Linked DNA regions of Homo sapiens: regions 2 and 3 are each linked to region 1. The links come from fine-mapping of genetic effects on gene expression. A gene starts in region 1. Each other region holds a variant in brackets. All regions are shown on one strand. Distances are between the middles of the regions.

The links. PIP is the estimated chance that this variant, and not a neighbour inherited with it, causes the effect.
Region 2: its variant is fine-mapped to the expression of TYW3 in whole blood (TOPMed, PIP above 0.99).
Region 3: its variant is fine-mapped to the expression of TYW3 in whole blood (INTERVAL, PIP 0.91).

What each region holds. Positions count from the first base shown.
Region 1 is chr1:74,730,547-74,735,777 of GRCh38, reverse strand. It overlaps TYW3 (tRNA-yW synthesizing protein 3 homolog), which reads right to left and starts at 2,626. Exons shown (of 6, transcript NM_138467.3): 1 at 2,360-2,626. The coding sequence starts at 2,533. It overlaps CRYZ (crystallin zeta), which reads left to right and starts at 2,728. Exons shown (of 9, transcript NM_001889.4): 1 at 2,728-2,822. RefSeq lists enhancers at 2,012-2,111, 2,492-2,781, 2,336-3,046, 3,642-3,931.
Region 2 is chr1:74,766,089-74,771,319 of GRCh38, reverse strand. TYW3 (tRNA-yW synthesizing protein 3 homolog) reads right to left here. Exons shown (of 6, transcript NM_138467.3): 6 at 4,643-5,231. Among named protein-coding and RNA genes, the nearest start is that of TYW3, 36 kb to the right of the region's middle. The variant A/T (reference allele first, on the strand shown) is at 2,142.
Region 3 is chr1:74,651,749-74,656,979 of GRCh38, reverse strand. The region is part of intron 1 of ERICH3 (glutamate rich 3); the gene reads left to right. Among named protein-coding and RNA genes, the nearest start is that of ERICH3, 19 kb to the left of the region's middle. The variant AG/G (reference allele first, on the strand shown) is at 2,519.

The DNA.
Region 1 (5,231 bases):
GCATGTCCTAAATAAATATTTTGACTTCATTGTATGACTTCGGTGATGGTGACTTACGTATCTGACATTGTGCTGGCTACTCTGAATCTTAGAGCCAAATGTATGGCCCACTTCTAGCAACTTTACAGGATCTAGTGGTGGGATTGGCAACTAATGCCATCGCTGGCTTCATCTTATCTATATTTTCTTTATCCAGATTTTCCCACTTTTTATTTTTTCTTGTGTTGCCTGTTTGTAAGTTGCCCCAAATCCTTACTGAAATAAGGCAGATTTTAAAATAAACCATAATACGAGGTGTAAGATAAGAAATAAAAGTCTAACCAGTACAGAAGCAGTCATTACTTCCAAGTAGGTAGTATGTGTTTGTGGGTTCAGGTGGGAGAGGGGAGTTTTGGGAATCATGTCTCAGATATGCAGAGATAGGAAAACATTTCAGGAAAAAAACCGCCAAAAAACATGAGCAAAAGCAAGTAAATACAAGATGAAAAGAACAGTTTAGTTTCAGTAACTAGCTAAAGATGAAGAAAAGCAATGAAAAAAAGGTTGAAAGGTATACTAGAGTAAGCATTTGGATTTTCTGATGTAGAAAAATGTGTAATAAAACATAGCATAGGTGAGAGATAAGCAGAGTTGCAATTTGTCAAACATGGTTTGGAGAAGAATAGTTAAGTGGCTTGTTAGAGAACCATTGCAAAAATCAAGGCGAGACAGAGTTATGGAAATGGGGCAAGAGAGAGTTTGTGGGCAAGAATGCCATTGCTCTGAAGGTGATGGAAGTGATTTAAAAATGAACAGGCCCTGCTAACTTGAGAGATCAGCAAATAAATGATCAGTCAATAATGGACCTAAAGAATGAGCCTAACAATGTGCTGTCTTCCATGCTCTTAAGCCAATACTACGAATAAAATCAGTACACAGCCAACTTTTACAGTGCATGGGCCAGGCACAAAGCCAAATATTTCAAAAAAAATTATCCTATTTTCTCCACACAAAATCCCTATAAAGCAGATACTTTTTATTATCCTCAGTTCATAGAACAGGAAGGGGCAGAGTTGAGATAGCTTTCCTAAGGTCACATAGCCCGTGGTTTTTAATCTAAGCAGTATCACTCCCAAGCAGCCTTATCCTCAGGGGATATGTCCCAAGACCCCCTAGTGGATGCCTGAAACCTCAGATCAATTTCTTTTTCCTTCTTCACTTCACAATTTCACTGACAAGATTCATTCTTTCCGTAGATCTTAGCAACCTCAGCATATGCTGTTTTTTCTTTCCTTAAGTCTTTCCTTAAGAACTTTCACCTTTTCACTTCAAAAAAGCACTTTAAAACTTACTGTTGGCAGATCCAAATCGCCAGCATCATTACTCCCGTACTTTGGGGCCATTATTAAGTAAAATAAGAGTTACTTGAACACAAGCACTGTGATACCACCACAGTCGATCTGATAACCCAGAAGGCTACCAAGCAGCTAAAGGGCAGCAAGAATATATAGTGGAATATTCTGGACAAAGGGATGATTCACCTTCCATTCTGGAAGGAGCTGGTTGGCTCAAGATTTTATCACGCTACTCAGAACAGCATGCAATTTAAAACTTACTAATTGTTTATTTCTGGAATTTTCATTTAATATTTTCAGACTGCTGTTGACTGGGGTAACTGAACCTGCAAATAAGGAGGTATGGCTTGTACAGCTGCTTCTTGATTTATGATGGGGTTACATCCCAATAAATCCGTCATAAGTGGAAAATGTAAGTCAAAATGCATTTACTACCCCTGTAAACCCATCATAAAGTTAAAAAAAAAAGTCTAACCATCCTAAATTATATACGATCGTACTTTTCTCTGCGTAAAACTACTAGAGTTGTAATAATGGAGGGGCTCACTAGGAGGCAGTAAACTCCTTAACACTGGTGATGTTCAAGCATGCAGTAACAATGATTTGCCAGAGCTGTTGATGAGCGGATTCCGGCATTCAATACCTTAGCAAGCTACAAAGTCTTTAGATTCCCTTAGTATTCATATAATAAAATCAAATTTTCTAAACTTTGCCACACAAGATAGTTCCCAGGTCAGCAGTTTCAACATCATTTGGGCACTTGTTAGAAATGCACAGTATCAGGCCCTACCCTACACTTAAAGAATCGGGATCTGTATTTTAAAAGATGCTCAGCTGATTAATAGCCACGTTAAACTTTTAGAAGCACTGATCTAATCCCCTAAATTTCACATATAAAGAAACAGAGACCACCCCTCAGAGGAGCAAACACAGACATGCTGGATCCGGTCGTCACTGGATGGGAACAGGGCTCCTGAAGTTTCGCACTAGAAGGCAGGCGATGGACAGGCGCAAAGGGGCCTCACCCGGTCAAGGAGTAGGATGCGGCCAGCGCAGGAGCTGGTGGTGAAAAACTGATCTCGCATGTTCAGAAACTGCACAAGCTCTACCACATCCTCGTCAACACTGCCCTTCCGGCTGAGGTCCGCTTTGCTCAAACATTGCGCCTTCCATTTCCTGAACTCCGCGCTGCGATCCATGGGTGACGGACTCAGGGTCTGCGCTCGGCTCCTTCATGGTAGCCTCGTCTCTCCCTGGGGGCAGCCATATTGAAGCGAGCGGTGGCCGAAAAGGTCCAAACTTCCTCTTCGTTCTTAATTTGGGAAATTCTAGTGCCTTCGCCTAGGGGTGGAGAGAGGCGCACATCCTGGGTGGAGCGAGGCGCACATCCTGGGTGGAGCCTGCAAAAGTTGGAGAAGGTGTGGCAGTCCTCATTTCTGTGGAATCTGAAGAAGCCCACGCAGATTTTAATTCCCACTCTAGATTCTGGTAAGTGGTTTTAAAAACTCTCCTTAGTTGTTTAGACAGCGAATCTCCCCACTGCTCGTCCAAGTGGAACCGAGTTTGATTTTGGCTGCACCCCTTTCCTGCCCTCTGTCCTCCCAGAGAACTAGTGCGTAGAGCTCCAGACCGAAGCCATTCCCCTCCAGGGGCTGCAAGTTCCCATCCATAAATCAGGTAGGAAGTTTTGCCTTCTGGTCCTGGGCTCCTAGCCCTGGTCCTGCGTTTAGGCTCTGAGTTTAGGCTACCACACCATGAGGTGTCCGTTGGCACTACCCCTGCCCAGCCTCCGCCCCCCGCACTCCCTGTCCCCCAGCCCCACGCTGCACCCCCCCCCCCCCCCCCCGCCAGTCACCCGCTTGATTTTTCCCTGCAGCCAGTGCCTGGGTTTGGGGATTCCTGCAGCAGCGCCCAGCGGTCTGTCCAGGGCCCCTTCCCACAGCCCAGCTCTCAGCTGTAGAGGATTTGTCCTAGGTAGGGCCCCTTCCCACAGCCCAGCTGTAGGGGATTTCTTCTCCTAGGTAGGGCCCCTTCGCACAGCCCAGCTGTAGGGATTTGATTTCTTCTCCTAGGTAGGGCCCCTTCCCACAGCCCACCTGTCAGCTGTAGGGGATTTCTCCTAGGTAGGGCTCCTTCCCACAGCCCAGCTGTGGGGGATTTCTTCTCCTAGGTAGTGCCCCTTCGCACAGCCCAGCTGTAGGGGATTTGATTTCTTCTCCTAGGTAGGGCCCCTTCCCACAGCCCACCTGTCAGCTGTAGGGGATTTCTCCTAGGTAGGGCTCCTTCCCACAGCCCAGCTGTAGGGGATTTCTTCTCCTAGGTAGTGCCCCTTCGCACAGCCCAGCTGTAGGGGATTTGATTTCTTCTCCTAGGTAGGGCCCCTTCCCACAGCCCAGCTGTGGGGGATTTTTTGTCTTGGATTCCCACAATTACAGGTTTCCCGGAGCTTCCTCCAGCTTTGCCATCAGGATTGCAGTCTTTGAGAGAAATGTATAGTTTTATTGACCCTGTGACGCCCACCACCTAGAATAATCTTCAAAAGAAAATTACAAAACACCCTGTTAACACATCGTTGGATGTTTATACTGAGTTTCTAGAGGAGACTCAGTGACCAGGGAAGGTGTGTCAATGATTAAACCTAAAGGCTAAAGTTTGGAATGCTTGTCCGTAGCTAATGGAAATTGTTGTGCGAGTCCCTCTGAAGCCACTGTGATTACGTGTCTGGTTAGCGCAGCGAGTTCAGCAGCAAATCTCTCCAAGCTCTACTCCTCCAGCATTAGGGAACAGACTGCCCTGTTCCATACGATCATGGAACCTGGAGGAGTCCGAAATTATTAAACTCCTCCCCTCTTCTTACCCCGTCCTATCTCAAGTGAACAGAAGTGACCTGATAAGATCACACAGCCAGGAAGAGACTTTCTCTGACCACTTGTAATTCTTGCCTTTTTTACATTTCTGGGTTAATAATAAACCATATGCTTACATGAGTCATTGTGTATTAGCAGCAGAACAATTTGTAATGATTGATTTTTTTTCTAAGTTTTCAGTTTTTAAAATTCTTGCCAGAATTCTTATTTAATTTTACTTTTGCTCTTGTCTCATAATGTTCCTTTGCTCTGGCTTTGTGACTTGATCTGTTCATCCTATGTTAAAATATACTCCTAACATTTTCCCAATTCCTTTAATTTTCGTTTAAATCAAATGGATACAAGCATAGCCAGGAAAAAGATCACTGTTGGAAGAGGGATTTTAGATTTTCTATTTCCTAGATTTGTAAGGCATATTGGCAACCTTTCAGAGGTAAAATTAAACCAAAAATTAAACCAAGGGACTCTTAATTTTTAAAAGTTTATATTTGATAAACAGGAAGGCCTATTTGAAGTATAGTTTAATTAAAAAGCACAAGCAATGGAAAGGCCTGTCCTGTTCACAAGGATCCGATGCTAGGGAGTAATTTTTTTTTATACATTTTTAAAAATAGAATCATGTCCTTTGTATTTCTGCTGCATTCCCTGACTTAGTGGGCATTTGAGAAATTTCAAACTCTAAGCAGATGCCTTAGTCATAAAATATGCGATTCTACCTGCAGGTTAGTTTGATTTCACATTTTCTAGCTCAATCTGTCTCACTATCACTATTGTAAAGTTTATTTCTACGAAGTAAAGGGTCTTATATGCCAGCATCTCAAAGGGTGAGATGAAAAGGATGGTAAAGAAAAAAATCAGCTAACACCATTTAATTACAGGACTTGGGTTCTAGCTTTGCTTCTGTGTGACCCTGACCAAGTCTCTTAACCTCTTGTGATGTTTTCTCATCCATAAAATGGATGGCGATTTTATTTTTACTTCTGCATAAAATAATAGTTTAAATAACTTCTCTACCTGTTCTGAAAACAGT
Region 2 (5,231 bases), 36 kb before region 1:
GGTCAACTTGAATGGACTCCCACTGGTCAAATCTGGAATAATATGAACATTAAAATAAATAATGATAGCAATGGATTATAACCTTTTGAATCAAACAAGAATCCATGAGTTCATATGTGGGGAGAGTGTGTGAAAGCAAAGCTGTCTTTTAAAGTTGAATGCCAATTAATAAATGTAGAAGGAATAATGGAGGTAACAAATCATTATTTTGCAATCATAGTAATAACTTATTTGGAGAGGAATAATCAACAGATGCTGAAATTAGTGGGTAAAAGTTGGATAAAAATAGGTTATTTACATATTCTCAAAGTAGAGCATCCTTAAAATTTCTTATTAATTACAAAAGGGAAAATTACCATTAAACCTAGCAGACACCACATTAGCCAAGAGATCAAAGTTAACATAACCAATAATGGGACAAACTGAAATCCTGTACCCACTGAAGTCATGCTTTGACAAGAACACATCACTTATATAATATTCTTGCTCCAAATGCATAGTTTGAACCTAGTTAAAAATGAATATTAAAAATATAAATCGATGGCTATTAAATTTTCCTGTATTCTTCAAGCCTGTCAATGTTATCAAAGGCAGAGGCTTATAACCAATTATGTACTATTAAACAAGATTAAAGAAATATGAAACAAAATGCAATTCAGTTTATCCTACAAAGAATATCATTGGGACAAATGATGACATTTGGATAAGTTTTGCAGATTATATAATTATGTTGTATAACTGTTAGATTTCCTGATTTTATAATTTTTCTGAGATTATATGAGACTTTCCTGGTTCTAAAGAAATATACATTGAAATATTTAAGAGTGAAGAGTAAAATATATTTAACTTACTCTCAAAAGTTTGTATATTTATATGAGATTATTCATATGTACTGTATGTCTGTATATGAGAGAGAGAGAGAGAATGGTCACTCTGGGTAAAGTATATTCAGGAATTCTTAGTGCTATTATAACTTATTTGTAGATCTGAAGTTATTTCAAAATAAAAAGGCTTTCAAAAGGCTTGGTGTGAAAAAAGAAAGACAAGACCTATCATGTTTAGTCACAAGGTATATCTTGGAATACTAACATCTGGAAATTTGGATATTTTGTGAGATATAAAGAATAGTATTATGCATGTGTTTAGTGGCTTCTAAGCATCTTTTTTTTAACTTCAGTCATTTAACTTTATCAATTTCAAGATTCCTTCAAGAATTGAATAGTAATATAATTTGGTTAGGGATTTTGTCATTTGCTTATAAAATAATGAATTACATAATACTCATGAACTCTCCCAGCTACAATGCATTTATAAACCAGAATAGAAAGTAGTTGTTAAAAAAACAACAACGTCCAAGATGCTGGGGATATAAAAATATTGGAAAAACAGCTTTGTCCCTCAGTTAGTCAAAGTTTAATATGATGGTGGTGATGGATAGATATATATGTATGCAATTAATAGCTACCAAGAGATTTCTTGGTTTGTGTGGTTATGTAAGTATAAACAAAATGCTATGTATATATAGTACTGGGAAAGTGCTATGGAAAAACAGGAATGTAAGAAGTTAATTATGAAATGAGCTTTTAGGAAAGCTTCTCAAAAGAGTTAACATTTGAGCTGAGCCCTGATTGATGAGTAAAATTTAAAGAGCACTAAAGATCCTAGGCAAGTGCCAATACAAACAAAATCTTTAATAATGTTACTAGAAGGAAAGCTCTATGAAGGCAGAGTCCTTGTCCTGTTGCATGTGACTGACATATAGTGGGTGCTCAAAAAATATTTGTCATGTAAATGAATAAATAATAAAAATGGCATGTAAACAATCTGGTTATTGAGAAATAGTTCACTTTCTTCTTGCATGGTTTAGATTTGGTGGTGGTGAGGACATTCTTTTCAATTATCCTTGGAATAGCTAAAGAACATAGATCATTTCTATAATATACAAGTGTATGAAAGGTTTGTGTAAATATAATTTATTGAAATATCTGGGAAAAGGTATATAGAAAGAAATAATTATTAGAACCTTTAAATAATCTGCCTCTGATTTGAAAATGAACCAAAAAGAACTAGAAATAATTAAATATAATCTTTGAAATGTAAAACTCAATGGACTATCTAGGCAGTAGATTAGACACAGTTGA[A/T]GAGGGTATGAGTTAACTAAACAATAACCCGAGTGAATGACACAGAATGACACACATAGAGATGAAGAGAAGCTGGTGAAGGGGGATGAAAAGATTAGACAATATGGAGAATAGGCCCATAAGTAGGTATAATATAGGACTAATAGACTAATAGTTACAGGAGAGAACAGAATTGAAGAGAGATGAAGAGAGGCATGAAATATGGATTTTAGTCAAGAAACATCAATCTTGGCTTATCAATTGTAACAAAAAGTCCCACACTAATGTAAGATGTAGGATATATAAGATAAAGGATATCATGTGTGGGCAGATGAAGTGGGTACATGGGAACTATCTGAACTTTTTCTCTCAATTTTTCTGTAAACCTAAAACTGTTCCAAAAAATGTTATTAAAATAGATGAATAAATAAATAAAATTTGCAATGAGTTAAAGTTATAGTTTAAATTCAACCACATTAAAGGCAAAACCAAAAAGGGCTCATAAATTCTTGCTTGGCAAGAATAGAATGCATAAAAACCCAGGACATTAAAGGACTGTTAAGTTTAAAAACATTAGCATTTGTGAATATTAAAATCCTATTGCATTAGAGAAGCGTGAATGTTGACAGAAGCCCAGTAGAGTATGGAAAGAAGAGGCTTGAAGGTCAAAGCCCATTTTTAAAAGCCAAAAATCATAACTAAAAAATAGTCACTATTATACACCTTATATGGGAGTGTAATATTTACTCCCCGCAACTCCAGTCAAATTAAAGCCTGCTCAAGGAGCCATCTATAAGAATAAAGATGGTGATCATTTTTCATGGCTCTTCAACACTTAACCCAGCAAATCATATAACTCATCTCAAAATGGAGAAAGCCCTTGTTTTCAAAACGTGGTGCTCATCACTGCCTTTGCTCACATTTGAAATCAAGTGGCTCTGAAAAGGACTACGGTTTACTCCATCTAAGGGTAGCCACTGAGATCTTTGCCCTAGCTTCCAAAACATCCACCCTTGCAGGCTTCCAAACAGCTACCCATTGTCCTGGAACCCAAGGGCGCCACATGTGAGCAGGAGTCAAGTCCTGGCACATCACAGAATCTGCAGCACTCTGCCTCTTTCTCAATGTGGGGAGGAGGGTTAAACACCCAGTTGAGTGGGAAGGCACCCATTTCCCTTAAAGCACCAAGCCTCACGTATGTGCAACCTGTGCAGCTTGCATAGGGCCCCGTGCTTAGATGTACCTGTACGTGATTTAGTGCTCCGCTGTTGCCATCTTGTAATTCTTAAACCTTTTTTAAGGGTCCCACATTTTCATTTTGCACTGTCCTTTGAAAATTATATAGCTGATCCTGCTCCCATCTCTTATTTATTATATAATATACTAACATAATAATAGACTTTAATTCTCCCCAAAGATCTAACCAAAGTTTGCCAATGCTGGTGCCCACAGGGACCAAACAATGTGTAAATGATTGAAGCAGTTGTGTCAGGGAACCAGTAGGGGGTGCTGGGTCTGGGGTGAATAGGAAAACAAGTCTTATCCAAAAGGAGGAGCTAGTACTTGAACGGCTAAGTGTTGTCCTGTGGGAATGTGAGACGGCTCCAGCCAGATCTTCCAATTAAAAAAACACACACAAAACAAACTAGAGATGCGCTTTATAGTTTTAAATATTAAATCATCATATTTTAAAATGTTGATTCAATTAGAAAAAATATACTCCATGTGGGCCAAACAAAACATATCTGCTTGGCCATAACTTGGACAAGTTACAGCTTATGACTTCTGGCCTAGAACCTCAAAAGCAAAAGCATGTTCCTTAGTTTCCCTCCTTGTTTTTCAATAAGGTTGACTTCATTTTTCCTCTCTCTTTTAGAACACAAAAGCAGTTAACTTGTAGGTGATATGAGGAATCCAGACCGTAGGAATAAATGCTTGCCTTCATCCTGAAGGAAGGAAAAAAATCATTTTATTTTGGATGGAGCCACTACAATGAAAACAAATATAATGCCATTCTCAATAGGCAGGTTATGGTGTGTATTAAATTATTACTAAACTGCTGTGTTTCAGTTATTGATATTGGTGATCAGGCATAAATAAAACACATAAATAAAATAGTTGTGTGTTGTTTAACAATAGAAACATGTTCTGAGAAATGGGTTGTAAGGTGATTTAGTCACGCAAACATCACTACTGGGCCTACATGGTGGAGCCTATTGCTTCTAGGGTACAAACCCGTACAGCATGTTAGTGTGCTGACTACTGTAGGCAATTGTAACACAATGATAAGTATTTATGTATTTAAACATATCTAAACATAGAAAAGGTACAATTAAGATATAGTATAACAGGTGAAAAATAGCACATCTGTGCAGGGCACATACCATGAATGGAGCTTGCAGTACTGGAAGTTGCTCTGGGTGAGTCACTGAGTGGTGAGTGAATGTGAAGGCCTAGGATGTTCTGTATAAACGTATTACTGTATAAACTTTATAAACACTGGACACTAAGACTACACAAAATTTCATTAAAAATGTTTTATTTCTTCAATAAATTAACCTTGGCTCACAATGAACATTTGGTTTATAAACTTTAATTTCTTAAAACTTTTTGACTCTTTGGTAATAATGCTTAGCTTATTGTACAGCTGTACAAAATATTTCTTTATATCCTTATTCTATAAGCTTTTTTATATATTTTTTTTAACATTGGAAAAACCTTTTTGTGAAAAACTAAGATATAAACACACACATTAGCCTAAGCCTACACAGGGTCAGAATCCTCAGTATCACTGTCTTCCTCCTCCACATCTTGTACCACTGGAAGGTCTTCAGGGGCAATAACACACATGAAGCTGTCACCTTCTATGATAACAATGCCTTCTTCTGGAGTACTTCCTGAAGGACCTGTCAGAAGCTGTTTTACAGTTAACATTTTAAGTAGTATACCCTAAAATAATGATAAAAAGCATAGCAAAGACACAAACCAGTAACATATTATCAAGTATTATGTATGCACTGTACATAATTATATGTACCATACTTTTATATGACTGTCACCACAAACGTGGGTAATGTGTTGTGCTACAGCTTTACAATGACCACATCACTA
Region 3 (5,231 bases), 79 kb after region 1:
GTGACAGTTTACTGTGTGCATAGCTCCATACAACACCTTATAGGAGGGTGTACAAGAAGAGAATTTTACATGAGTCTGAAGACAGTGATTAAACATGGGTGAAAGAAATTCTGGTGGAAGGTGGTGAGACAAGGACCCTAGGAAAGAGATAGGTACAATTTTATGGGAACTCCTGTGACATTTTGGCATGTTCTTTATTGATTTATTGATGAACCCTCCCTACTTTTAGAACCTCAGCTTCCTGAATGTAAAATGAGGGAGTTTGCCAGATTCTATGTGGGTATTTTCACATGTGAATTTCTATATTCCAAAAATGATGAAGCTTTAAGCAAATATATTTCCAGACCAGTAAACTGAGATGTTCACTTCAGGGAGTAGTCCTAGCATTTTACTTGATGGATAATGGCTAGGTAAAGAAGATTGAATTATTGAGGGTCATGTATCTTATAAGGGGTAGAATTAGATTTGGAACTCAAGTCGAGGGCAAGGGCTCATGGGAATGGGTGTGCTTTCTTGCTCTTCCACCTTCCGCCATGCGATGACTATTTTGTGATGGAGTTGTTTCAAAAGTGATGGTAGAGGAATTCCCACAAGGGAGGGCCTCAAAATATCTTGTGATGGGGCCAGTTGGGATTCCAAAGAAAGAAACACTAAATGCCAAGGTCATCAGTCCAAAGCATTTATTAAGGCAACCTAGATGGAGAGTGCTGCAGCATATTCTCACAATGAACAGTGAGAGAAAAGGGATGTGCTATCTAGGTTGTCCATGGTGAGGGGGCCTGGGTATATGGAGATTATATGAAATTTTAGGAAATTTGGTTCACAGCCCGGGCCAGTTTCTTTCTAGGAAACCCAGATAACTTTTTCAGTGCCTGGGAATGTTCAAGTCCTCAGTTTGGGTTCAGGCCTGCTGGGCAAAACCCACAGCTGGTTGGGTCATAAAGCAGTGAAGGCATTCTGATTTTTAGTCATGATACAGAAAAAAAGTGAAGGAACTGGGAAAGCTTTCAGTGATGCAGTGAGAAGGGAGAAGGCCCTCACCAGATGATGGCATCTTGATCTTGAACTTCTCAGCCTCCAGTATTGTGAGAAATAAATTTCTATTTTTTAATAAATTACCCATTCTGTGGTATTCTGTTACAGCAGCATTAAATGGGCTAAGACACAGTCCAATCACCATCACATTCAGTGTCCAATGTTTCTGCTCCTGGCATCAGGCTTATGGGAGAGACCTTGCAGAACATAGAAGAATGGCCCTCAAAGATGTCCATATTCTAGCCTTCAGAGCATGTGGATCTGTTACTTTACATGAAAAGGAGGAATAAAAGTTGCAGATGGAATTAATATTGTAAATCATCTGACCTAAAATAAGGAAATTATTCTGGATTAATGTGGGTGGGCCCCATGTAATCACAAAGGTCCCTAAATGGGGAAGAGGGAGGCAGAAGAGCCAGAACCAGAGAGATATCATTGTGAGAAATAGTTGACCAGCCATGGCTGCATTTGGCAATGGAAAGGGCCCAGGACCCAAGGCATGTAGGCAGCCTCCAGAATATTGAAGGGAAAAATAACTGGATTCTCCTTTAGATCCTGCAGAAGGAATGCCACCTTAATTTGAGTCGTTTCTGTCTTCTGACCTCCAGAGCTGTAAGAGAATAGATTTGTATTGTTTTAAGCTACTAGTATGTGGTAATTTGTTATAGCAGCAATGGGAAACTAATGAACACTTTATTAATTTATATGGAATAAGTCACAATTTGGGTTAAATAAAACTAACCTGGTTGAACCAAAATTATTTTTAATATCTCTTCAAACAAGTATGCTTTTGAGGAAATTTTTAGTGCAAAGCAGGATGCAGGAATATATATTTAAGAGATTAGCTGAATTTAAGACTTCAGCACATTGCTTTTATGCTAAAATTATGAAGGAAAGTTATGTATTTGTTAATATAAGTCTGTAAGAATTTTTATTTAAAAGGTTTCTATCTCTGTAGTGGAGAATTGGGTGGATTATATTTCTCTGTGAATATTTCACCATTCACATTTTTCCATCATTATACTTAGCATACTGTATCCCTCACATTAGCAAGACCTGATGAGTGCTCTTCACTATGATTCGTTACATATTAGCAGGAATAAGCCTTAGGTTATATGGTCTTTGGCAAGTGATTTAAACTAAGGCTTGTTTTTCTCATCTACAAAATGGGGATGATCATATCTTCTATTATGGACTGCATGTCTGTGTCTCCCCAAAATTCATATGTTGAAACCCTAATCCCCAATGTGATAGTATTTGGAGATGAGGCCTTTGGGAGGTAATCAGATCATGAGGGATTGGTGCCCTTATAAGAAGAGACACAAGAGAGCTTGCTTCTCTCTCTGTTCTCTCCCATATGAGGACACGATGAGAAGACTGTCATCTGTAAACAAGGGAGAGGGTCTTCTTCAAGAACCTAAACATGTTGGTACCCTGATCTTAGACTTCCAGCCTCCAAAAATAGTGTTTGTTTAAGCTACCT[AG/G]GCTATGGTATTCTGTTAGAGCAGCCCCAAAGAAACTAAGAGAAACAGTAGGATATACATATCCTACTGTAGGATATACATATATACATACATATATATATATACACATATCCTACAGTAGGATATACATATATACTGTTGGTACTAACAGTAGGATATACATATCTAAAAATGTGGAAGTGGCTTTGGAACTAAATAATAGGTGGAGGCTGGAAGAGCTCTGAGGTGCATGCTAGAAAAAGCCTAGATTGCCATGAGGCAATTTTTAAAGGTGATTCTTGTGAGGACTCAGAAACGAGAGAAAACCTCCATCTTCTTAGAGACTACATAAACAATAATAAACAGAATATTGGTGGAAATACAGATGGTAAAGGTCATTTTAATGAGGTTTCAAATGGAAATGAGGAACATGTTATTTGAAATGGGAGAAAAGGCAATCTTATAATAAATTGACAAAGAATTGGCTGAACTGTGTTCGTATACTAGTGTTTTTGAAAGGCAGAAAAATTGAGGCAGAGGGTCACTTGTTCACAGTTATGGAGCCAGTAATGGTGGAGCCAGAATTGAACTGAAGCTAGAGTTGGCATTTCTCTATCTCTTTTCATCCCCAAAGGTAATGTAGACAGTGTGGGGATGGGTAGTACAGGGAGAGATGAGGGTAGAGTTACAGGGTGCTTCAGGCCAGAAGAAATAACATTATCAATGTGATCCATAAAGAAATATTGCCTTAGGTTTTCCTAAAACTGACTCACATTAAGCAATAATCTTGTTTTGGAGCTTTTCCACTTTAGTAAGATAAAAGAGCTGTAATAGTTAGATATTGTTCATATTACATGGGTCTAAAACAACTAGATGAGACTATGTATGTGAGAGTGCTTTGTAATCTGCAAAATGGAATATGGATATTACACTCCTTCCCCAGCTCAGGATTCAGTGCCTGACATGGAGATACTTGGTAATTAATTAGCTTATGATACGGGAAGAACTCTCTCTCTCTCTTTCTCCTCTCTCTCTCTTTCTCCTCTCTCTCTCTCTCTCTCGTTCTCTCTCTCTCTCACATACATACCCAGACACAGACACACACACACGTGCACACACAGTGTGTATCTAGTGTGTGCATCTCCCCACTAGATTGGGAGCTCCATGAGTGCAGTGTCTGTGCCATCTCTGTGTCCCTAATGCCTTACAGAATAACCTAAAATTAGTCATTAAACAATAAGCTTTTGTGATTTAAAAAAACTATTATAGTGCCTTTCCTTTTAGCTGGGATTTTTATATGGTAGACTATCTCTCTTTGGGATCAGGAGAAGGGATTGTTATGAATCACTGACTTTACTACAGAGCCACATTTATATATTACATGGTGGGAGGCAGGGTTAGAGGGTTAAGTGCTGAAAGGCCGCAGCTGGGAAGGTAGCACCCCGGTGACTCAGCTTTGGCTCCTCTAAACTTCAGGCCCTGAAGGATGTGGTGTGTGCACTGAAGTGAGGGAAACAGGAACCAGCATGGAGACAAGGTTGCTCTGTTTCCTCGGAGACTGTTTTCCCCAGTGCATTGAGCCAGGAAGTGGGTTTTTCCCCCACCTAGTGACCAGGGGATGGGTAGATAGTCTTGTTCATCACATAAAGAAACAAACGTGTTAGACTGGTCTGGCCAGTGACTTGTGGGTCTTGGCATGACAACATAGCCTGCGAGTAATATGGTCACAATGCCCTGGTGCTTGCTGTGACCAACGGAATCGATGAAAAGGGTGCAGTGGAGGATCACAGGCCTGAAGCAGCACGACCAGGAAGTCTAGTGTTGACACTGGATGCAGAGTGTAACATACAAGCTGCAACACAATCACCAAGCCCAGAGCAAGGTGACCTTAGTCAGCCCAGGGTTATGCCATGAGCAAGAAAGAAAAAAAAAAAAGAAAAGAAAAGTGAAGGGAGTAAGTAGCACTGAACGCAGAGGAAAAGGGTGGAATTTCAGAAAAGCTCTGCTAACCTGAGTTTGTGTTGGTCAGTGAGCTCTTGTAACTGGGTAAATGTGAAAATGGGCTACAAGCGCATATCAAGTACAGGTGAAAAGGACCAGAACAGAGAGGATCAGCCAGACCACAGTGTAGCTGACACTGGCCCACGCAGCATTTGACCATCTCCCTGGAAAGGAGTCTTGATGGTCAGAAAGATGGTCACATGTATATGCATGCAGTGGAAATGCTTGAATTGACCATTTTACCAAATCTGTATATAATTTACTTTAGAGCAATTTCTTGATATCAAACAATTTAGTAATGTAAAGTTTCAGTTAAAAAAATTCCAGCATTGTCTAAAAATGAAATAACTGAGCCGGTTATTATTCAGCTGTCCTACCAAGCTAGTCATATGGTGATAGTTGTGGAAGGAGTTGCTTACAAGTGGTATCCCAAGCAAGAACCCACATTTATTCCTAAATAGGAAAAGATGATGTGTAAAAAGGTTTCAACCCAACTGGACCTGCTTGACGATTTGTAAGCCTGGACAGGCATCGTGCACACATTTGTTAGTAGAAGCCCGAGAGAGCAGAATTAAAATCAGGTGCTACCAAAGCTGGCTAAGCAATTGTTATTAGGATCTAAATATTAAAGAAGTTACAGAGCCTGAATTAAGGAAGGGGATAATTTATCAGTCAATAGGGAAGTTGAGGTTTATGTGATCCCAACTTTTTGACCCCCACTTCATTTAATCG